Homo sapiens: one gene and its partners. The protein of the gene in region 1 purifies or fractionates together with the protein of each later gene. This does not show direct contact. Each region holds a gene or a part of one and is shown in the gene's direction. Other genes may lie near its edges. The genes, in order: CLCN2, DMBT1, NVL, BPIFB1, RAB11FIP2, MUC13 and PSME3IP1.

The links.
Region 2: the proteins of CLCN2 (region 1) and DMBT1 purify together in Homo sapiens (affinity purification with mass spectrometry; one large-scale study listed by BioGRID and IntAct). This does not show direct contact.
Region 3: the proteins of CLCN2 (region 1) and NVL purify together in Homo sapiens (affinity purification with mass spectrometry; one large-scale study listed by BioGRID and IntAct). This does not show direct contact.
Region 4: the proteins of CLCN2 (region 1) and BPIFB1 purify together in Homo sapiens (affinity purification with mass spectrometry; one large-scale study listed by BioGRID and IntAct). This does not show direct contact.
Region 5: the proteins of CLCN2 (region 1) and RAB11FIP2 purify together in Homo sapiens (affinity purification with mass spectrometry; one large-scale study listed by BioGRID and IntAct). This does not show direct contact.
Region 6: the proteins of CLCN2 (region 1) and MUC13 purify together in Homo sapiens (affinity purification with mass spectrometry; one large-scale study listed by BioGRID and IntAct). This does not show direct contact.
Region 7: the proteins of CLCN2 (region 1) and PSME3IP1 purify together in Homo sapiens (affinity purification with mass spectrometry; one large-scale study listed by BioGRID and IntAct). This does not show direct contact.

Annotation. Positions count from the first base shown.
Region 1 is NC_000003.12:184,345,685-184,348,645, reverse strand, and holds the end of CLCN2 (chloride channel protein 2), read left to right. Parts: exon of another isoform or gene 1-1,283; intron 1,284-1,624; coding exon 1,625-1,711; intron 1,712-1,845; coding exon 1,846-2,040; 3' UTR 2,041-2,461; downstream 2,462-2,961. UniProt on the Homo sapiens protein: Voltage-gated and osmosensitive chloride channel. Forms a homodimeric channel where each subunit has its own ion conduction pathway.
Region 2 is NC_000010.11:122,630,254-122,633,753, forward strand, and holds part of DMBT1 (scavenger receptor cysteine-rich domain-containing protein DMBT1 isoform e precursor), read left to right. Parts: intron 1-34; coding exon 35-237; intron 238-707; coding exon 708-1,028; intron 1,029-1,601; coding exon 1,602-1,622; intron 1,623-2,607; coding exon 2,608-2,637; intron 2,638-2,937; coding exon 2,938-3,088; intron 3,089-3,500.
Region 3 is NC_000001.11:224,232,673-224,236,172, reverse strand, and holds part of NVL (nuclear valosin-containing protein-like), read left to right. Parts: intron 1-2,883; coding exon 2,884-2,972; intron 2,973-3,200; coding exon of another isoform or gene 3,201-3,232; exon of another isoform or gene 3,233-3,500. UniProt on the Homo sapiens protein: Participates in the assembly of the telomerase holoenzyme and effecting of telomerase activity via its interaction with TERT. Involved in both early and late stages of the pre-rRNA processing pathways.
Region 4 is NC_000020.11:33,307,214-33,310,371, forward strand, and holds the end of BPIFB1 (BPI fold-containing family B member 1 precursor), read left to right. Parts: intron 1-2,494; coding exon 2,495-2,554; 3' UTR 2,555-2,658; downstream 2,659-3,158. UniProt on the Homo sapiens protein: May play a role in innate immunity in mouth, nose and lungs. Binds bacterial lipopolysaccharide (LPS) and modulates the cellular responses to LPS.
Region 5 is NC_000010.11:118,012,442-118,015,941, reverse strand, and holds part of RAB11FIP2 (rab11 family-interacting protein 2), read left to right. Parts: intron 1-831; coding exon 832-877; intron 878-3,500. UniProt on the Homo sapiens protein: A Rab11 effector binding preferentially phosphatidylinositol 3,4,5-trisphosphate (PtdInsP3) and phosphatidic acid (PA) and acting in the regulation of the transport of vesicles from the endosomal recycling compartment (ERC) to the plasma membrane.
Region 6 is NC_000003.12:124,921,252-124,924,751, reverse strand, and holds part of MUC13 (mucin-13 precursor), read left to right. Parts: intron 1-1,102; coding exon 1,103-1,225; intron 1,226-2,448; coding exon 2,449-2,555; intron 2,556-3,500. UniProt on the Homo sapiens protein: Epithelial and hemopoietic transmembrane mucin that may play a role in cell signaling.
Region 7 is NC_000016.10:57,179,540-57,183,039, reverse strand, and holds part of PSME3IP1 (PSME3-interacting protein), read left to right. Parts: intron 1-489; exon of another isoform or gene 490-1,423; coding exon of another isoform or gene 1,424-1,486; intron 1,487-3,500. UniProt on the Homo sapiens protein: Promotes the association of the proteasome activator complex subunit PSME3 with the 20S proteasome and regulates its activity.

The DNA of each region.
Region 1 (2,961 bases):
ATAATAAAAGCGTTTCCCTCTGAAGTCAGACAAGGAAATTAAAGCTAACTTGTAGCACGTAGGACTCCAGTTAGCCAGAAGGAATCGCTAACCACATGACAACTGTGTTATAGGTATTCAAGAAACACAGAAGAACTTTTTTTTTTTTTTTTTTTTGAGACGACAGCGTCTCACTCTGTCACCCAGGCTGGAGTGCAGTGGCACGATCATGGCTCACTATAGCCTCTGCCTCCTGGGCTCAGGTGATCCTCACAACTCAGCGCCCCCAAGTAGCTGGGACTGCAGGCATGCACCACTATGTCTGGCTTTTTGTGGAGACAGGGTTTCGCATATTGCAGGCTAGTCTCAAACTCCTGGGCTCAAGCATTCTACCCGCCTTGGCCTCCCAGAGTGCTAGGATTACAGGCATGAGCCATCGCGCCCAGAAGAGCTTATTCTAAAATTGAACTTCTTGCCCCTCTAAGTACTGTCATGCCATGGGTGGAGAAATTTAGGAAAGTTCTGGAAATCCCTCCCTAAAGAATTTCAAATGTGTAAGAACATTTAAAAAGTGTTAAGGCAATTTAAGTGAGTTCTGAGTAATTGGTACACAAGAAGCTGTTATTACTGCTCATCTTGATTCAAACATTAAGCGAAGAGGCTTACAAGTAAACTCAGAACAGTGAGATAAATGATAGGCCAAAAATTCCAGGAACTGCTGAGTCAGGAGAGCGTTTTTCAAGACATCTGGCCCCAAGAAAATCTACTTAAAGCATAAGGAGAACTGGCTGACAATTTCTGAACCCCTGGTGATTATATGTGAAAGCTTAGGGGAGGGCTTAAAGCAAGAAAAACATGGGAAGATGGGGGTGACCGTTGTCCTCCTGGACTGCAAGCTGCATCTCAACAGAACTTGGGATGCTGCTTGGACCCTAGAAAAGGCAGACTGTATGAGAGGCATAGCGTGCTTCAGGCCAAGACTGGAATGCCAGAGCAGGGGAGAGAGACTCCAAACCTGGCCAGCCAGGTAGGAGGGCAACTGAGAAGCAGTGGAACGAGAGGCATAGGATTCAGGGCCCAAGTGCCCTTAAGGTCGGTGTGGGCTCTCCCTTCTCGGTATATCTGCAACTAAACAGGACTGGGGTTGTGCGTCCCTCTCCGGTGTGATGAAAAGTGACTGGGGCTGCACAGCCACTCCTGAGGACCCGCCTGGAACAAGTCACTTCACTGTTGAGCCCCATGCTGCTTCTCCTAATGCTTAGTTCTCAGGACAGTACTGGAATTAAATGATAATGTAAGACCTAGCACGGAGCCTGGCCAATCACTAGATTTCACGTGTGAACAGTTGTTCTGTCCCACGTCCCCCTTTCTAACATGGGACTAAGAATTACTCCCCCATCCTATTTCTCCGTCAGTGTAAGCAATATAAGGATTTTGAGTATCAAGTTCCTGAGGCCTGGACACAGAAACATTCTCATTATTATTACGATTGTTATTATTTTCCCTCCAGCAGTCCTGTCTCCTTCCCTCCCAATCTGGGGCACCCCTCCTATTCCACACCAACCTTGTCCTGGGCCCCTGTGGCCTGTCATTTAGAGCTGCCCCTCGTCCATCAAGTCCAATCGCTTTTCTCCCCACACTGCAGACTCACACTATCTTCTCACTGCTGGGAGTGGACCATGCTTATGTCACCAGTATTGGCAGACTCATTGGAATCGTTACTCTAAAGGAGGTGAGGTGATGGTGGCCTCCAAAGCTGCTCCACTTCCAAAAAGTCATGGAGGCTTATGTCCAGCTCACCTGGGGAGGAAGGCGGGGAGGAGTCTGACATCTGGGTCCAGACATCTGTCCCTCTCACCTTTCCAGCTCCGGAAGGCCATCGAGGGCTCTGTCACAGCACAGGGTGTGAAAGTCCGGCCGCCCCTCGCCAGCTTCCGAGACAGTGCCACCAGCAGCAGTGACACGGAGACCACTGAGGTGCATGCACTCTGGGGGCCCCACTCCCGTCATGGCCTCCCCCGGGAGGGCAGCCCTTCCGACAGCGACGACAAATGCCAATGAGCCCCTCGTGGGTGGCCTAGGATGGTGCTAGCCATGCCCGTCAGCCCAGAATGTGCATCTTTCATTCCTTCTGCCTTCGGAAGGCAGGAGGCAGCTACAGCTGGAGGCTGCACCCCAGCCCCCTCCAGACCTGGGGTGCCAGCTTCTCCCAGTTCATCCTACCTGGAATCTGACCCACTACCCACCTGCAACAAGTCTTCCAGAGGCAGGAAGATAGGCCCTGCCCTGGCAGGATGGGTTGGGGTCACTTGACCCCTGCTCCCCCTTTGAGGGGAAAGGGGTGGAACTAAGATGGGTTTATAACTGGAACCTCCAATGACCAGATGTATATAGAGATTTACAAAGATTTTTATATTAATTTAATAAAACAAATTCTTAAATAGAACAAAATAAACACCTAATGAGCCACTTATATATAGAATGCTTGTGCCCGTTGGCTCTCGTTCTTACCTTGGGCCCTCTTACCTGCCAAAGCCTACAAGGCCCTTAATTCTAAAGCCACCCACCCTTCCCACAACCATAAAAACGTACAGTCCAGTGACCTTGGAATGCAGGATCTGCCAGAGGCCTCCACTACGTGGGCATTAACACCCTGGCTGGGGTGGGGCCCTGTACTGTAGCCTTGGCCTTTCATTCAGACAGAAAGGCTCTACCTTCTTTCCTCCCCAAGAAGAGACACTCCCTCATGACTGTCACTCACTGGCACAATTCCTGCCTCTCAGCAGGCATCAGCTGACAACTCCCGGCCACCCCTGTGGCCCTCTTGTGGCCCTCTCTAGAAGAACATGAAGTCCCAGCTCTGTGGCAACCAGAGCCATCCTTTCTTCCACCTCCCGCTCAGAGAGCTCTGCGTGAATGGGCAGCCCGGCTGGCTGTGAGGCGCCAGCACACTGCCCGCACATCCTAGGAGGGGTTGGGAAA
Region 2 (3,500 bases), on another chromosome or scaffold:
TCAATGTTGACTTGAATACATTTTCTCCATACAGATTGGAGGCACACCATAACTGCAGTTTTGATTATGTTGAAATCTTTGATGGATCATTGAATAGCAGTCTCCTGCTGGGGAAAATCTGTAATGATACCAGGCAAATATTTACATCTTCTTACAACCGAATGACCATTCACTTTCGAAGTGACATCAGTTTCCAAAACACTGGCTTTTTGGCTTGGTATAACTCCTTCCCAAGCGGTAAGTGCACACTAGACCATGCCTATGAGGCTTGGTGGATTTACCCAGCTGCCTCTTTGGGGGCACCATGGTTCCCCAAGGAAATCAAAGAAGGGCCTCAGCGATGCACGGCCCATTCTCTTTCTCTTGGCACTGACTGTGTGGGCAGGCCCTTGGGAAGGCAGCAAAGGGTGCAGACTGGGGGTTCCACCTGGCCTTGGGTCTGCCACCAACTCTCCAGGGGACCTGGTGACTCTCCTTCAGAGCCACCCCTCTCCGTCTGGAGGTGAGGGGATCTGAGCTTGGCGATGTCTAGAGCCCCTTTCAGCTCTGCATGGAGCGGTCCAGTACCTCCACCCCAGCTTTTCCACATTTCTATTTGGCGACTTTAGAGGTGGGAAAAGGCCTGTGGGATGCTTGGCCTTTGAGGTTTGTTGTGGGACATTTGTTGTGGGACATGGCCATGATCTCTCAGTTAATGTGTCTTTCAGATGCCACCTTGAGGTTGGTCAATTTAAATTCATCCTATGGTCTATGTGCCGGGCGTGTAGAAATTTACCATGGTGGCACCTGGGGGACAGTTTGTGATGACTCCTGGACCATTCAGGAAGCTGAGGTGGTCTGCAGACAGCTAGGGTGTGGACGTGCAGTTTCAGCCCTTGGAAATGCATATTTTGGCTCTGGCTCTGGCCCCATCACCCTGGACGATGTAGAGTGCTCAGGGACGGAATCCACTCTCTGGCAGTGCCGGAACCGAGGCTGGTTCTCCCACAACTGTAATCATCGTGAAGATGCTGGTGTCATCTGCTCAGGTATGGCCCAATGCCATGGAAGGCCCATTTCACCTGTAACTTGCTATAAAGCAAGAGCTTAAGGCCAGTGGCTGATGGTGTCTGTGGCCCAGGCAGGAGCTGGTCATTGTGTCCTCGTGGCCTGCGCACTCCAGAAGAGCATGCAGGGGGCTGCTTTATCTTTGGCCAGTTTCTGGACCCAGGGCCATTATGCTGAACACTCATCTGACTAAAGGACCTCCAGCAATGATTTTACTTCTTTATGCTTCAGTTTCCTTGACTGTTGAGTCGGGGTGGCTATGATAGTACTTGCTACTGGTGACAATTGGGATGGTTTTAGAACAATCATGGTCAAGGAGAGAGTGATGGGTGTTATGACCTCAGCTGTAATCCTGATGACCACAAGTATGACGGGACTTAGGGAGCATCTGGGGAAGCTGGGAAGGCTTCTCAATAGCAATTGCTGGGTGGACCTGGGGACCCTCGCCGAGGGGGGTCAGGTTATGGGCCATGTAAGTGTATCTCTGTCTCATTCCGGCCCCTCCTCCAAGCCACATGTCTGTGACCTATGCTTTTTTTCTATTCCTTTTTCAGGAAACCATCTATCGACACCTGGTAAGTCCCTCCGATTTCCATTCCACTTCCCTGGTCTCCAGGTCTCTCCATTACTGCTGCCTAGACTGTGCAGGGCATGTTGCTCACTCTCCAAGGAGTTCATCTGTGGTACCATCCTCTACAGCCCCTGTCCCCTCCCCTGCCGGCCACCAGGATAGTGTGCCCCTCTCTGTGCTTCAGTGGCCTGACCCACCTAAGATTAGGATCTCCAGTCAGTCCCGAGGTGAGGCCCGCCACCTGTCAGATTTGACTGTCCTCACAGACACCAGACCCTGACCAGTGTTGGCCAAATGGGGCCCACTGCATCGCAGAGCTCCTCCCTGCCTGCCCCTGAGCTGCTCTGAGTGTTCCCAGCATGGCCCTGGCACCTCTCCAACACCCCCCACTGCCCCGCCCCCTGCTTGCTTTGTCATCCCCTCCTGGCCTCCCATAGCAGCAGCTTCAGGCCTGTGCCCTCCCATCCATTCTCCACTGTGCAGCCCCTTCAAGAGATTCCTCAGGGTCTTCTGGTGATGACCCCGCTCCTCAGCACAGCATGACTGCCAGGGCTCCCCATGATCTGCTCCCTATGCTTGGTGCCCTCTCCCCATCCTCTGCCTGCTCCATCTACACGGAGGTTCCCAAATCTATTCCACCCAGGTGCAGTTGCACCTGCTGTTCCTCTGCCTGGGACACCCCGTTTCTACCTCTTTGCCTGCCCCCTAATTACTGCCCTTTTTTCCCCACTCCATCTGGGGCAGGGGCCAGACTTCCAGGCTCCTCTCCTTCCCCAGGCTTTGGTCAATCTCATCCTTTTCCCAGTGTGCTGGGATTCGCTCTCCTCCAGACCTCCCCAAAGGCAAGTGAGCTCCCCAAGGGCAAGGCCTGTGTCCAGCTCCTCCCTGTGGACTCAGGCTTGGCACAGCATCTGCACAGCTCATGAGCAGTCGACAGCTGTGTCAGGGATGCCAGAAAACTGATCCTGATCTTTTCTTTTTGTCAACAGCTCCTTTTCTCAACATCACCCGTCCAAACAGTAAGTTCTGAGCTCCCTGACAAGTCTGTGGCAGAGTGGCCTGGAAATTCCCCTTCCCATTTCCTCAGTGACAATGGGGCTGGGGAGGAGATGGCTTCCCCCAAAGTGGTCTCCCTGCAAGAGTGCCCTGCCAGCCCTCAGTGGACGGTCCAGATCTAGGCCACCTCTTGCTCTTACTTGGTTTCTGTCTTGGGAATTATTTTATAAAATTTTAAAGTAATTTAAATTTAAAGTAGTCCGCAGGTAGACTGTGCAGTGTGCTCTGGGGGTCACCGACATTCCCACTTTTTGTCCTGACAGCAGATTATTCCTGCGGAGGCTTCCTATCCCAACCATCAGGGGACTTTTCCAGCCCATTCTATCCCGGGAACTATCCAAACAATGCCAAGTGTGTGTGGGACATTGAGGTGCAAAACAACTACCGTGTGACTGTGATCTTCAGAGATGTCCAGTAAGTGTGCGCCCAGAAGAATGCCTTGGGGCCCCACAGACCTTTCAAGAGGGAATAAATGGTGCTTAAGTGTGCGCCCAGAAGAATGCCTTGGGGCCCCACAGACCTTTCAAGAGGGAATAAATGGTGCTTAGAAAGCCAGGAGAGAAGTTTGCTGAGAGACATTTTTGACCTAGCCCAGAGGCATCCCGTGGAGAGTTGGGGAGGGGGCACGAGAGCCTTGGAGTGGACAAAAGCTCTGGTTTCAAGTCCTAGGTCTTTCACCAATTTGCTGTGTGACCACAGGAAGTCACTCAACTTTCCTGAGCCTCAGTCAAAAGAGGGGAATAAAATACCTGCTTTCCTCACCTCACTGTTTACTGGGAAGGTCACGAGAAACAGAGAGGAGAGAGAGGGAGAGAGATGTGAAAAT
Region 3 (3,500 bases), on another chromosome or scaffold:
GATGCATTTTCACCTCCACATAGCCTGTAGTAACATCAGGAAATCTGACATTTCTGCCTTCATCCTTCCTATGTTTGTGTTGTTACAGTTATTAGTTTTTCTTCATATGTTTTGAAGTAAATTTGTTTGTTAACTTTCCCAATTTGGGGACACAGAGGGAGGAAATGAAACTCAAGTTTAACTAACAGAGACAATGCCCCCTCCGGCTTTTTGTTTTCTTTTTTTTCTTTTTTTTTTTTCCATACAGGGTTTCCCTCTTTCACCCAGGCTGGAGTACAGTGGCATGATCATGGCTCACTGTAGCCTTGACTTCCTGGGCTCAAGCAATCCTCTGACCTCAGCCTCCTGGATAGCTGGGACTACAGGTGCATGCTACCATCCCCAGCTAATTTTTTTAAAAAATTTTTGTAGTTTTAGGGTCTCGCCATATTGCCCAGTCTTGTCATGAACTCCTGAGCTTAAGTAGTCCCTCATGCCTCAGCATCCCAAAGTGCTGGGATTACAGTGAGCCACCACACCCGGCCCTTTTTTTTTCTCTATTATGTCCTTCCAATGTAGCAGTGATTCTCAGTGAAGAGAAACTGATCAGAGTCTCAGGCAGGGGTGGTGAGGGGCAGATGTAAATGCCTCTACCTCCCCTTAAATAGGATGTGCCTCACCCCCTAATTAGGAATCAAATCCATACGAGTCTTTATTTAAATGATGTGGCCAGGCACAGTGGCTCACGCCTGTAATCCCAGCACTTTGGAGGCTGAGGTGGGCAGATCACTTGAGGTCAGAAATTTGAGACCAACCTGGCCAACATGGTGAAACCTTGTCTCTACTAAAACTACAAAAATTAGCCGGGCATGGTAGTGCACACCTGTAATCGCAGCTACTAGGGAGGCTGAGACAGGAAAATTGCTTGAACCCAGCGGGTGGAGGTTGCAGTGAGCTGAGATCGTGTCACTGCACTCCAGGCTGGGCAACAGAGCGACACTCCATCTCAAAAAATAAAAATAAATAAAATTAAAAATAAAGAAATGGCCTTATGCTTAGGAGACTACTACTTGAGTAGTTTACTGCTTTAAGGGTGGGAGCAGTGGCTCACACCTGTAATCCTAGCCCTTTGGGAGGCCAAGGCAGGCAGATTGTTTGAGGCCAGGAGTTCAAGACCAGCTTGGGCAACATAGTAAGACCCCATCTCTACAAAAAAAATAATAATAATACAGCTTTAAGTGCTCAAATCTGAAAAGATTTTCGGTGAGTAACAGGTGATTTTGGTGGCGGAACTTGCCCTGGGCTAAATCTTTTGGATATACCAAGTAGGCTATCAGTCTGTGAAGGGGTTAGGGCTAAAGTTGAATGGTGTACATTTTGGATTTTCATGCCACTATAATTACAGTTTGAGAGACACTACACCACTACAGTCTATAGCTATCTGCTTGTGTTAGTTAATGGTGTTTCCACCAATGTTAGATTTCATAGTATGGGAAGGAATGAATACCCCAGCAGGTATGTGATTATTAAATAATGTTATAACCCTAACATTTAGCCAACAAAACACCAGATTCAGTTAAAAATTTAAGCTCTGTGGGTCTTTACTTTTATATAGTATGTGTCTGAGGCAGGAGAATCACTCATACCCAGGACGCAGAGGTTGCGGTGAGCCAAGATCACACCACTGCACTCCAGCCTCGGTGACAGAGCAAGACTCCATCTCAAAAAAAAAAAAGTTATATAGTATGGGGATTATCAACATTATATAATAAGTTTAATGTCCAGAGATGAGGTTTTTTAAAAAAATTTATTTTTCATTTTCATCTTTTCTTTCCAAGACTTGTGAATCATAGAAGTGATGTTTTTATCCCCAAACTCAAACTCTTTCTCATATAATCTCTAAGAACCCTGTTACAGCTGTAATGTAGTGAAACTCCAGTCAACATGAGTGTCTTTCATTGAACTCAGAACTGTGCTGACTCAGCATATTATTACATGAACTAATTAAATAAGTGAAGGCCTGTTTTGTATTTGTCATATTTTAAGTAACTTATGATGTGTTCATTCAGTTTTAACTTGAATCAGGTGCATTAAAGACTTTCCAGGGTTTGTATTTTTCCCTTCTGAACTTGGAGCCACAAGTGACTTTTTGGGGGGTTTTCTTGAGACAGGGTCTCACTCTGTCACCCAGGCTCACTATAGCCTTTGCCCCCCAGGCTCAAGCAATTCTGCCATCTCAGCCTCCCAAAGTGCTGGAATTACAGGCATGACCCACTGCGCCCAGCCCATAAATGACTTTTTAATAAGCTTACTTTAGACATTATGTAATACATGAATATGCTAGTCAGCACTTTAGCCCTTTATGCATTGTATTGTTTCCTCCATAATTTCCTTTCTTCTTGAGTTTAGTTTTTTTTTGTTTTTGTTTTTTAATTGGGACAGAGTCTCACTCTGTTACCCAGGCTGGAGTGCAGTGGTGCGATCTTGGCTCATTGCAACCGCCACCTCCCGGGCTCAAGTGATCCTCCCACCTAAGCCTCCCCAGTGCCTGGGACTACAGGTGCATGCCACCATGCCCAGCTAATTTTTTTGTAGTTTTGTAGATATGGCATTTCTCCATATTGCTGAGACTAGTCTCAAACTCCTGTTCAAGTGATCCACCCACCTCGGCCTCCCAAAGTGCTGGGATTATAGGCGTGAGCCACTGCACCTGGCCTAGAAATATCTTATATAAAAGCTAAGAGCTCTTTTCTATTGATTGATAATCAATTTATTTCTCATCTTTATTGGTCACTTTTTCTCCTGATTATTTAATATATGACTTATATGAAAACTGTTTTCCGGGTTTTTTTCTGGGATTTTGCAGTATCTAAGAATAAGTAGATAACTATTATTTTATTGTAGGGGCGCAGATCTCTCTGCTTTGGTACGAGAAGCTTCTATCTGTGCCCTGAGACAGGAAATGGCAAGACAGAAGAGTGGAAATGAAAAAGGTACAATTCTCTCCAGAATCTCTCAATTCTAATTATGATACTTAAAACCACTGTTGCCCTGGAAAATGACCATTTTCTAGTGTCTATTATCTATGATATTAAAGCTAACGTTTTTCTAATAAGACTGTTAGAAGCTGTTCTGAAATATTAGGTAACCTCTGTTGCTGACAATTATAATAATAGCAAAGTTATTTAGTACCTCTCTAATAAAGAGTACTGTCCCTATAGGCAAATGGATCCATTCGCTGTCTTCATCATGAGTCTGGGCTGCTTATCAATTCTGGAAAAACGTATTCTTTTGCTAAGGTGATATCTACTTGCCTGTTAAAATGCAGCCTAAATTGGAGAGCTTAGAAAATACACAAGAGAAGTGAAATTTGGAATAACTTTCCATATGTTGAGACTTTCCTTTCAAAATATAAAATCTGTGTATTGTGTTATGTGATGCTTTGGGGCCATCTCAAAAGCTTTGCACCATCCTTCACATTTGACAGTGTCTTTAATGTTATTATTTGAGTGCATATGGGG
Region 4 (3,158 bases), on another chromosome or scaffold:
TTCATTCATTCATTCATTCATTCAGTAATTCACTAAATATTTTTCGAGGGTCTTCTATAGGCAAGCCATGCTTCTGAGTGCTTGAGGCCACCGAAATGAACAAATGGAAAACACTCCCATCTTTTTCAAGCCTACCTTTTAGCAGAAGAGGCAGATACACAAGCCCTAAAGATGTAACATCAGGCTGAGTGGAGGAAGGCTGAGAAGAAAAATAAAGCAGGCTCAGGAGGAGAGAGTGATGTCAGGGAAGGGGGTGCTGTTTCAGATGGGGTGGCCAGGGAGGGCCTCTCTGAGGAGGTAACATTTGAGCCAATGCCTGAGGAGGTGAGGGGTGAGCCCTGTGGGTAGCTGGGAGAAGTGTCCCGTCAGAGGGACAGCGTATTAGGCCGTTCTCACACTGCTATAAAGAAATACCTGAGGCTGGGCTCAGTGGCTTGTGCCTATAATCCCAGCACTTTGGGAGGCCAAGGTGGGCAGATCACCTGAGGTCAAGAGTTCGAGACCAGCCTGGCCGACATGGCAAAACCCAGTCTCTACTAAAAATACAAAAATTAGCTGGGCGTGATGGCGGGTACCTGTAATCCCAGCTACTCGGAAGGCTGAGGCAGAAGAATTGCTTGAACCCAGGAGGCGGAGGTTGCAGTGACCTGAGATCACGCCATTGCACTCCAGCCTGGGCAACAAGAGTGAAATCCATCCCCCCCCCAAAAAAAAAAGGAAAGAAAATAAATACCTGAGACTGGGTAATTCATGAAGAAAAGAGGTTTAATTGGCTTGTGGTTCTGCAGGCTGTACAGGAAACACGATGCTGGCATCTGCTCAGCTTCTGGGGAGGCTTCAGGAAACTTCCAATCATAGCGGAAGGCAAAGGGGAAGACTGCACATCACATGGCCCAAGCAGGAGCAAGGGGTGGGAGGTGCTACACACTTTTAAACAACCAGATCTCACAAGAGCACACTCACCATCACGAGAACAGCACCAAGAGGATGGCGCTAAACCATTCACAAGAAACCAGCCCCATGATCCAATCAGCTTAGACCCCACCTCCAACATTGGGTTCTACATGAGATTTGGGCGGGGACACAGATCTAAACCATATCAGATGTCAAGTGCAAAGGCCCTGAGGCAGGGATTGTTGGTGTTCCAGGAAAGATGAGGAAGGAGGCCCAGGATCTGAGGCAACATCCAAGGCAGGTAACCTCATAGGCCTGAGATGCATGCATGCACACACACATATACACACACACACGCACACCTTTATACACCTATACACATACATACACACGCACATACAAACACATACACCTTTATACACATACATACACACACACACCTTTATACACCTATACACATACATACACACGCACATACAAACACATACACCTTTATACACATACATACACACACACACCTTTATACACCTATACACATACATACACACGCACATACAAACACATACACCTTTATACACATACATACACACACACACCTTTATACACCTATACATATACATACACACACACATACATATTGCACACATACACACCACACACATACACACTACACACACACACATAATACACACACCACACACATACACACTACACACACACATACACACACACATAATACACACACCACACACATACACACTACACACACACCACACACATACACACATACATACACACACATACACAGAGACGCACACATACACATATACACACATACACACACTACACATGCACATACACATACACACACACACACACACCATGTGGCCAGATGGTCTCAGCTCAAGGCCAGGATCATGTCCATCTTGTCCATGCCTCTGTCCCCGGTGCTCAGCATGGCCTGGCACACAGTAGGTGTTCAATAAATGCTTGGTGAGCAAATGACTCTCCGTGGCATCTGCTGGGGAGAGGATCTATGGCAGTGTCACCCTCGCTCCCAAATACTACCCTTAAGAAGAACAGCTCACAGTCACTGTGTGCCAGGCTCTGGGGCATCTCTCCCCCTCTAGAGTGGAGCCAAAACTTCAAGAAGGCAGGGGTTTCTGTCTGCTTTGTTCTCTGTTGTGATCAGTGGCTGCACACAGTAGGTGTTTAGTAAATGCCTGCTAACTGAGATGGACACCTTACTGTCATTAGCTCATGCAGAGGAGGGGCCCAAAGCAGGGGGTGATCAAGGCGGGTGCTAAGTGCAAATCCCACTTCTGCCACCTACTGAGTGCGTGACTTTGGAAAGGGGCTTTTGCCATCTTCAAGTCTCAGTGTCCCCATCTGCAAAATGGAGATGACATCAGGACCTGGTGTGGCATTAATGTTCACACACAGACCCTCCACCCCGACCCTTCTAAGAATTCTGTATTTGTGGGTTCAGGGTCATGGTCCCCCGGTGCCAGCAGTCACCTTATGGAGGACAAAACCAGCATAAACCACAAGGCAAAAGGTTAAAGAAACCTGTTTTCTGACTTTTCCCCTCCAATTCCAGGATGCCCTTGTGCTTACTCCAGCCTCCTTGTGGAAACCCAGCTCTCCTGTCTCCCAGTGAAGACTTGGATGGCAGCCATCAGGGAAGGCTGGGTCCCAGCTGGGAGTATGGGTGTGAGCTCTATAGACCATCCCTCTCTGCAATCAATAAACACTTGCCTGTGATGCCTGCCGTCTGGAGTCTCTTTGTCCCGGCACAGGAGTCATTTTGCCCCTGGCAGGCTTGGGGACTGGATGGCTGAGCCACACCTGGGTCATGTTCAGGCACATCTGAGCCAATCTGGGTGATGTCTGGGCCACATGTGGATGATGTCCACAGTCTTGACCACCTCCCTGTGCTTCAGGAATCAGAAAGCCAGCTCTTCCCACCTGCCTTCATGTCAGCCTCAAGACCATCTTCAGTGGGATGGCTTTTAGGGTGGGGGACATATGTTTTGTTTATCTTGGCAGTGTGGTGGACAGAGGACTCTCTGAACAATGTGGATCTGGGGGCAGATGAACTAGGCTTGGAGCTCTGGCTGGCCTCTTAATGCTTCTTTGACTCTGGGATGTAGTTTCCCCTCTGTGGGCCTCAGTTTCCTTCTCCGTAAAATGGGGATAGTCATTGTCTCTGCCTTGGAGGGCTTTGGTGAGGAGTAAATGAGAGAACAGTTCCAGATACATGG
Region 5 (3,500 bases), on another chromosome or scaffold:
TGTTGTTTTGTGCATGGAATAAAAAGGTTCTTAGGACACTAATGCTTTGTGAAGGTTTTAAAGGCTAATACCTTTAAGTGCTGGGTAAAAATTAAACTTGAATAGCACCGATGAAATATTTACTCATCAGATGGCTTTGAAGTTTAGCGTCTTTTGGTTGCAGTCCCATCTAATGGACATGTTTCAAAGAAGAAAATAGTTATAGCATTCAGCTGTGATGTTTTCTTCTCTGCATGGGAGAAATCTGTGTTGTTTTGATTCGTTTCAGTATTTAAATTTTCAAGACTAGCTACTTAGAAATCACATTAACGAGAGAAATGTTTCCCACAATTCTGAATTTATTCTTATTGATAGGGTAATGTTTGAAAGCTGAGTTTTCTAACACTTATGGCATTTTTAAACAGATTGCTTTAACTCTTTTATTCTATAATCTTTCCAACCTAAATTTACTTAATTCTCCCTAGTTTTATATCAGAGGGCCTAAGGTGAGTGACTGTGTGTAAATATAATGGGAAATCTCTCACACAAATTAGTTTTGCAAAATATCTTGCTGGATAAAAGTGCTATGTTTAAAGTTGTTTAGAAACTTCCTATTTCATTCTTCAGTTCTGATAACTAAAAAGTTTTCCTTCAAAGTTTGAAATTGTAATGATGCTTTAAGAATGTTGGGGAAATACTGGATTTTTTTCTACTTCTTGGATTAAATTTCACTCCTCTGAATAATGTAGGGCTTTAGAAATTTGTATTACAATGTTGGTTAAAATTTTTCTATTTTTATGTTTCCTCCCACATGAGTTATGACACTTTTAACATTTGTTTGTGTTTTATTAGTTTTCATATGAGTCCAACAAGCAATGAAGACCTCAGGAAAATCCCGGTAAGTTGCTGAAGGGGTTAGAGGGTTGTCAAAGAGTAAGCTGGTCTTTTTCTCTGGCACACATTTCTAAAAATGCCTTTGTCTTCTTGCCTTCTGCCTCACTTACCTAAGAATTGTAGCTTAGCGTAGTAATTTTAGGAGAAAGAAAGAAAGTAAAATACAATCTTTGCCTTTAATATACAATAGGGTGTGACTCGTATGATCTATGAAAGTTCAAGCAAAATTGGTTATAATTGAAGCCAATTTAGAATATACATATTTTGTTTACAGACTTTTGAAATTAATATGCAAGCTGTATGTCAGGGTCAAATTTGTGGTTATGAAATAAGAGCACGTAGAAAAGACTATTTTTTGTTGTTGTTGGGACAAGGATTGAAGAAAGAATAAAGCTGCTTGTTAACATTCAACAATAGAAAAGCATCCTGGCAGGAGAGCCAGATAACCAGGAAAGTATTTGAAAGAACAAATACTTTAGGACACTTATCTTTCTCGTCAGAACAAAACCAAATATGTTAACAGGATTGGTAGCGACCACCTAAATCAACTCACGTATTTTGCAAGGATTATTCAGATAATCTGAACTTTATTGTAGTATTTGAAGTCCAGTATTTAATCTCTGTTCAGAGTTCCATTGCATCTGCAATCAATTCTAACTATATTAAACGTAGAGAATAAATTACTTTGCCAAAATATGGGCAAACGTTCTTGGTAGAAAACTAAATTCTCACTGAATAACAGAAATAGAGGCTTTATTCCAAGACACTGGTGGTTGCTGTTTCAACCATCTGTCCTTGATGTGTGCGATCCAGATGTATAGTAAGAATTTTTTTAGGCAATCCCATATCACATATCACTATTTTTTAGGATGTGACATGGCTAGAAGAAGCTAAGGTGGGTTTAGGGTTTATTTTCTAAACCATTCTAAATGCAGTTGTTTATCTTTAAAATTGTGGAAACTGTTACAGAAGCACAGGACTTTGTACTGTGTTTTTGCTGTTTTATTTAAACGATTCGTAAGTTTTGATGTTTTATAAATTCTCAAGTCTTTATAATATGGCAGTCTGGCGAGAAATGTGAGAAAATATGAAGTCAGCCTTTGATCAGATAGTAAAATGAATTCTATCAGGCGGTTACTTAATCTCAAACAAAATGCAACATCAAAAAAATCGATTTAATGTGTAGCTATTGTTTATTAAGTAACCTTAATTACAATTTCGATTGCTTGTAAATGTACTTTTCCAAATCTTGTAATTTATTGCTGTAGAAGCATCCTTAGAATTCTTTAAAGAAATAAAATGTGAAAATTGTTTTAGTTAAAGGATTTAAAGGTGATAAAAGAATCCTTGATGTGTGATTATTTTTCTCTGGAATACTAACTATTCTAAATGACAGTTAAAGGATTACTAGGTGTTGTTAATTTACTGCAAGATACAATTAAGAGGAGGAAGCGCATCTTCGTACTGATCATGATTGAAGAAAAGCATTCGAACAATTTTTATGTTGAAGATTATAAGATGTTTGAAGTAATTTACATTAAGTTCTCCAATAATAGCCATCCACCAAGTTATTTTTTCTCCCTCTGGACATAGTATTTTGTAATTAAGTTTGTATGTCTTATATGCTAGTGCCAACACCTGTCTGTGAAAGCACAGTGTTTAAACAGGAGCAGTAGCCAGTTGAAAGGGCAGTGTGAGCTCTTTAAGGCCTAATTAAGAACTGAAAGGGAGATGAAGGGAGTAGGACAAAAGATGTGAAAGTAGCTGAGATGATATTCCCAGAGCAAAGTTCCTCATTAGAACAATAATGAGATGATCAGAGAATGCCAAGCCTTCATTTTTTTTTCTCTCTCTCCTCTAGTTGCCTTGGATGTCAGTTAGTACCCCACCAATATTTGGTTACCAGGACAACCTTTCTTTAAATCTTCAGTTATTTTGAGTCTTGATAATTTGCTTTTGTTTAAATTTAAATATTGTAAAAAATGTACATTTCCTAGTTTAAAAGGCTAGACTGTGTAAAGCAAAAATAGATCACTAGCAGTTCTCAAAATCTTATGCAAAACTGTATTATTTAAAATTCTGGGTTAGAAAACTTCATGTAGTAATTCTAATATTTTCTTACCAGTCCACATCTTCTATGTCTGCATATGGACATTTTTAACAGAGGTGGAGTAGAAATGAGAAAAGGTTGGTTGTAAAAGGGGAAGAGAGAAGAAAAATTTACATTAAATTTCAAAATAAGAAAACATCTTAAAAACATAAGTGCTGTCTGTATGGAGTACTGTAAGAAAAAATATTGAGCACTTTGGAGTAACCATTGTAAGTTGCATTTGGTCTTTGCCAGTTTAGAGAGTTATGAATTTTGCAAGTTTTTGCAAGAATAATCTTTCGAAAAAATAATTTTTATATTTACCTGAGAGTTTTCCTCTCTAAAAAAATAATTTTTGTAATGAGCATATGTTTTAATTTTCTATTGTTTATATTACTTAATCATTATTTTATTTGGAGTTATATCAACAAACAGAAATATATATATATATGTGGAGTATATCAGTCAATTTAAGAATCTCATGCCTAAAATTAGAAGGTTTACATTGTTTTCAAATATCAGATAAAATCTGGAACTC
Region 6 (3,500 bases), about 59 Mb from region 1:
CAATAAAAAATAAATCTCCCTCTCATCCTAAACCCCCAGGACCCAGACCCCCAGTTTCCTTCCCCAGAGGCAACTTCTGTGCCCAATTCCTTGTATCTCCCTCCTGAAATTACCTATGCAAATATAAGCAAATATTTGCTTGTGTATAATCCTTCCCTTCTTTTATTCACAAAAGAGAGCATGTTATACACATTGTACCTTACATACAGCTTTTAAAGAAATCAGTGGTTTCTACATATAGGTTTGTAAGACTCTCAAGACAGCTCTGAAGGTTATCAAACACATAAGCTATTCTGACATCACAGCTCAGAATCATTCCACTTGACAGAAGTGAAGAAAACTCATAGCCCAGATCACCACTGGACCACTGAGCTAACTCTCCTCCTCAGATCTCATCAGTTCCCCAGAGAAAGAAAGATGCTACACCCTGCCTGGCCTGGGAGTCTCAGCCCACAGTGTAGAACCCATTGCAGTGTTATTTTCACCATTTATTCAGATGATCCACTTAGAAAGCCAGAGGCTGGAATGTCTTCTCATGGCCTCTTAGAATTTTCACTGAGTTAATCCACATTTCTCTCCTTTACTATCCCATTCCTGTTTTTATGGCTATGTCTCCTAGGTATGCCTAACAGAATGTGACATCTAGTTTCTTTTGGAGCTTCTTGGCTGTTTCTTCCTATATGACAATTATTCATACCTTTCTAAAAATAAGATGTTTTATCTAGAATGTTTTGGGGAGCCCCACCTAGTGTTAGAGGACCATGCTTCAAGGTTCTGGAGGGACTTTGAGATCTGAAGATTCCTGACTCCTTGGAGTCAGAAGACTGCAATCTCTCTTTCTTTGGGCAAGCCCTTGTACACTAATCTCTGATCTTTACTATTGACAAGTATTATACTTGGCTCTAGAATTTCAGAAACAAACTCTCTAGAGACCTAAGCAAGCAAATATTTGTTTTTAACTCTTCCAAAAGTGTGCTGTGGAGTAACACAAGCAAGGAATGGAAAGGGCCCAGGGGGGAGGCATGAAGATGGAAAAATACGTTTCCAGTTGTTATTTATTGTCATTTCTCTGGATTTCTAATCTCTTTCTACTCCATCTAAGGTCCCAGCAATCCTTGCCAAGATGATCCCTGTGCAGATAATTCGTTATGTGTTAAGCTGCATAATACAAGTTTTTGCCTGTGTTTAGAAGGGTATTACTACAACTCTTCTACATGTAAGAAAGGTGAGTTACAAGGGATGAGCCATGGCTGAGCTCTGTATCTCACACCAAAAGTGGAATCGAAAACTCAAAATGATGGCAAAAGGAGATTCCAAAATATGAGAGATAAAGAAAATGCAGAGGCAACAAAGGCCAGCAAAGTAGAGAAAAGTGCTGTTACCTAGGGACACTGAGGCAGAACAAGGTGATCTATCAAAGACCACACAGTCCAGCAACCCTGGGAGCCTGATCTTCAGTTCTGTGTCACAAGATTTGTTTGCTCCATAACATCAGATCCCCCTCTTAGAGACATAAGAGCCCTTCAGCTCTAAAAATGGATTTCAGGAGTACATTTATACACTTGTGGCATAATGATGTTTTGATTAGATCACCAGGGTGCAGTGAAGGTCTGAGGGCTGACTGTCTGAGTTCTGTTTTTTTTTTTTTTCTGTTTTATGAATGAGAAATATCTTCATTTTCCAGAGCAGCCAATTCTATAAGAAATGAATGCATTGCATTGCCCACTGGGGTTAGGGATATACCAAAAGGCCCCCAAATGCTCATATTTTTAGCACTAATAATCTCACTCCTGGGGATTTACTCTAAGTAAGTGACCCCAAATACAGAAGAACAGTTTGTGTGTGAAGATGTTCATTGCAACTTTTTCTTTTCCTTTTAAATAATTAAAAGCACTAAGTCCAATAACAAAAAATGATTACATCAAGGAAGGGGACATGTACTTCACAGAATATTATGCAACCTTTAAAAATGATGGTTATGAGACCAGGCATAGGAGCTCACACCTGTAATCCCAGCACTTTGGGAGGCCAAGGCAGGAGGATCACTTGAGCCCAGGAGTTCAAGCCTGCAGTGACCCAGTTGTGCCACTGCACTCCAGCCTGGGTGATAGAGCAAGACCCTATCTGTCTCTCTCTCTCAAAAAAAAAAAAAAAAAAAAAGACTAGGCAACGATTTGGAAAATACCTATTATATAATAAGAAGAAAAAAAATATGGCATAAACTTGGAATTACAACAATGTAAACTGTAAATGGAAAGAAATATACCAAAATTAAAATGGTTGTGCTAGGTTGGGCAGGATGATGGGTAACTTTTAAAATATTTCCAGATTTCCTGTAGTGTCGTTATATAATGTTGGGAATTCTAAAAAATAATCTATGTTTTAAAACAAAATGGAAATGACCCTCTTTTCATCAAATAGTACAGAAAGATTCTGCTTAACTTTCAGGAAAGGTATTCCCTGGGAAGATTTCAGTGACAGTATCAGAAACATTTGACCCAGAAGAGAAACATTCCATGGCCTATCAAGACTTGCATAGTGAAATTACTAGCTTGGTAAGTATTTTCCAACTTTCCTTTCTGTAAAGCATTCTTTGTTCTAACACTGAGTTGCAGAGTGTAGAGCTGGTCTTCAGGTGGTTCACGCTCGTACCATCGTACCAGTTGTTCAAACAGTGAAATGTACCTTTACTGGTCGGTAAACAGCAGCTGTCCTGAGCGCCTCCACCGGTGCCACCACTTCTTCATTGCCCAGGCCTCTCCCCTGGGACCCTTGGACCACCCCATGGTCTTGCACCTGGAGGCGTGGCACCTGGCCTGGCATGGCAGAGGGCCTGCAGAAGCTGGCTCCAGCCATACCATACCCATTGTTTTATAAGCTATTAACACAGTTTTAAATGGACAGATAAATATCATGAAGTTTTAAAATAAATTATTTCCACAGAATGAAAGAGAAAAAATTTAAAGATGTTGTTTTTCTTTTTTATATTCAAATTTGCATAAATTTTCATACTAGTCTGGCTTTTAAAAAAATGTCTAGAAGAAGAATTACATCTGAATATCTGTTACTTATTTTTCCCATTTTCAAAAATGTTGGCATGAACAATAGTTTCCCATCATTTAGATTATTGTGAGCAAGTGCACACATGTGAGCAAGCATGAAAGGAAAGGGTCTTTCCATTCTGCAGCCACAGATGTTAGCTCTGGAAGGACCCTCAGAGCATGTCCAGCCAATACAGCTCAAAGTTCAGTTTTAAAGGAAAAAATATTAGCCTTAAATATGTCTTAGAAGTTGAGGTGGAGGCTGGGCATGGTGGCTCATGTCCGTAATCCTAGCACTTTGGGAGGATGAGGCGGGCAGATTACTTGAGGTCAGGAGTTTGAAACCAGCCTAGCCAACATGGTGACACCCCATCTCTACTAAAAATACAAAAATTTAGCCAGGCGTGGTGGCAGGCGCCTGTAATCCCAGCTACTCAGGAGGCTGAGGCAGGAGAATCT
Region 7 (3,500 bases), on another chromosome or scaffold:
GCTGTGTGCCAACCTTATGTCTTTTACTGAATGAGTGTAAGTTCCTCAGTTGCCTGTTTAGTACATAGCATTGTATCTTGCACATAATAGGTTCTCGGTAAATATTTGCTTCAAAAATCTTTTTTCTTTGAGATGGAGTCTCGCCCACTTCGCGCAGGCTGGAGTGCAGTGGCGCGATCTCGGCTCACTACAACCTCCGCCTCCCGGGTTCAAGCAACTCTCCTTCCTCAGCCTCCCGAGTAGCTGGGATTACAGGCATGTGCTACTACGCCTGGCTAATTTTCATATTTTTAGTAGAGACGGAGTTTCACCATGTTGGTCAGGCTGGTCTCGAACTTCTGACCTCAGGTGATCCACCTGCCTCAGTCTCCCAGAGTGCTAGGGTTACAGGCATGAGCCACTGCGCCAAAAAAAAAAAAAAAAAAAATCTTAGTTGGCCTTGTCTGGTTATTGTAATGCAAAGTTTTTTTTTTTTTTTTTTTTTTTTTAAGGGAAATGGGTATCTCCTTATGTTGCCCGGGCTGGCCTTGAACTCCTAGGCTCAAGCAGTCCTCCAGTCTCAGCCTCCTGAGTAACTGGGACTGCGTTTTTTTGTTTTATTTTGTTTTTAATTTGGTCTTGAAGTGGAGTTATATAGGGTGGGGGGAGGGAGGATGGAGTATGACTTGAGGTGTGGGTTAGGTTCTGAAGCGAGCCTAGATGACAAAATAGCTTACAAGCAAAGCTACCCTTGAAATCTCAGGGAGGCAGCATGTTAATTGTAGGAATACCAGTGTTGCAGAACTCTGACATGGCCAGTGTGATATTGTAAAATACATATTTGGCCTTCATCCCTGTCTCCTGTGGCATATGACTCCTATAATCCTTGAAATCTCCAAAATGATTAGTGTCTTTTTATATGCTAAGGAGCTGACTGATGGCTGGCAGCCCCTAAGTAACTTTAGCATGGGGGCTGGTCACTTGAAAGACCCAGGCAGGATTAGAGGGTTGGGACCTTCAACCAATGTCCAACCTCTGGGGAGAGGAGAAGGCAGACGAGCTGATGACCACCAGCGTCACTGGTTTAATTAGTCATGTCTAAGTAATGAAGCTTCCATAAAAATCCAAAAGACTGGGATTGGGGAGCTTCTGGATAGGTGGACATGAGAGGTTCCTGGATGATGGTGCCCCAGAGAGTGCATGGAAGCTCTGTGCCCTTCCCACATGCCTTGCCCTATGCATTGCTTCATCTGTATCCTTTGTAATATGCTTTTATAATAAACCAGTATATGTAAGTAAAGTGTTCCTCTAAGTTCCTCTAAGTTCTGTGAATTGGTCTAGCAAATTAATAGAACCTAAGGAGGGGGTCATGGGAACCCTGATTAATAGCCAGTTGGTTAGAACTACAGGTAAAACAACCTGATTCTTGTGGTTGGTATCTAAAATGGAGGCTAGTCTTGTGGGACTCACCCCTCAACCTATGGGATCTGACGCGGTCTCCATCCAGGTAGGTAGTGTCAGAATTGAACTGAATTAGAGGACACCCAGCTGGTTGGTGTCTGCTACAGAATTGGTTGGTTGCTTGGTGTGTGGGGACATATCCCTCACAGAATTATACTGTGTTGATTGTTGAGTGAGAGAATAGCAAAAATGCTTTGGTTTGGTTTGGGTTTTTTTTTTCTCTATATCCTCAGGCAAGTTTTATTTCGGCTTTGGAAAAAACTGCTGTTTTTCTTCCTGTGAGCCCCAGATGAAGTTGTTGGTTTGTATTTAGGAGTCACAATATGTAAAAAATACAATGAATACAATCATTCATGCATAGTGAGGGAAGTATTTATATTCAGAGAGGTGCATGTGAATGAGGATCAGCTAAGGGAACCGATATTTAAATTAGTTATCTTTCTTCTAGTGTGTATAGGTGAATTCAAGATAAATGCACATTTGAGACCCTGCCCTTGTGCTATGGAAAGATAAATAAATCAATACTTTTTTTTTAACTTCTTTTTTTTCCCCCTCGCCAGGCAAGGTCGGTCTTGTGCTGTTGCCCAGGCTGTAGTGCAATGGCCCTCATAGCTCACTGTAGCCTGGAACTCCTTGGCTGAAGCCTTCCTCCCACTTCAGCCTCCTAAGTAGTGCACCATCACACCTGGCTAATTTTTAAATATTTTTGTAGAGAGAGAGTCTCACTGTGTTGCCCAGGCTGGTCTTAAATTCCTGGCCTTAAGTGATGCTCCCAGCTTGGCCTCCCACAGCTTTGGGACTGCAGGCATGAGCCACTGTGCCTAGCCTGTTTGTCTGTTTGTTTGTTTGTTTGTTTTTAATAGAGTTGGGGTCTCACCATCTTGCCCAGGCAGGTCTTGAACTCCTGGGCTCAAACAATCCTGCCTTGGCCTCCCAAAGTGCTCAGATTGCAGGTGTGAGCTAGTGCACCAGGCCTTAATTTCTTTTCTTTTTTTTTTTTCTTTTTCTGAGACGGAGTCTTGCTCTATTGCCCAGGCTGGAGTGCAGCGGCGTGAAATCTCAGTTCACTGCAACCTTCGCCTCCTGGGTTCAAGCGATTCTCCTGCCTCAGCCTCCCAGGTAGCTGGCATTACAGGCACATGTCACCACAGCCAGCTAATTTTTGTATTTTTAGTAGAAATGGGGTTTCACCCTGTTGGCCAGGCTGGTCTTGAACTCCTGACCTCAAGCGATCCTCCTGCCTCAGCCTCCCAAAGTGCTAGGATTACAGGTGTGAGCCACCATGCCTGGCTGAATTTCTTATTGTATGTGTTTCATAGATGCCTGAAAGATTATTGCAAAGCTGAATTTTTTATTGTATGTGTTTCATAGATGCCTGAAAGGTTATTGCAAATTGCTCCTTATGATAAACATTTAAAATATGGATTAAATTTCTTTTTCTGTGGTTTAGTTTTTAGATTCTTTTAGTCTCCTTTGCTACCGGAATATGTTAATTAAGCTTTGGTGTTAGAAGATTGACTTCACTTTGCCTAGTAATAAATACTAACAGCGGGCTCTCTGTTAGTAGTTGTTGTTCTCTAAATAAATTTTATGATATAGGAAAAGTCAGCTAAATTTTTAAAAATCTAAATAACTGTATCTTGGTAGAAGTGCCTTCTGGCCAGAAATAAGTCTTTATTTGAAATATAGATGAGTTAGCCAGATGGCAAATTCCTCTTAGTTGCTGTCCTGCATTTTGAAGTACAGTGTGACTTGAACATCAGAGTAAAAAATGTTGGAAAGCAATAATCTATATTTACTCACAAAAGGAAATGGATTGACCTATTGCTTTTGCTACTGAAAGTGAAGCCTTAAAACAACAGAACACAGAAACCTGATTCTGGTGTGTTTTAACATGTACAATCTAATTAATTTTAGAATTAGAAGGATATGGTGGCCAGTGATGTAAACACTCAAGTAGTTTGCCATCACATAATTCAATTCCATAGGAAACCAGATCTCATTACTTTGTGTCATGGCACTAGCTAAATGGAGTCATTTTTCAAGTTAGGAATAGCAAT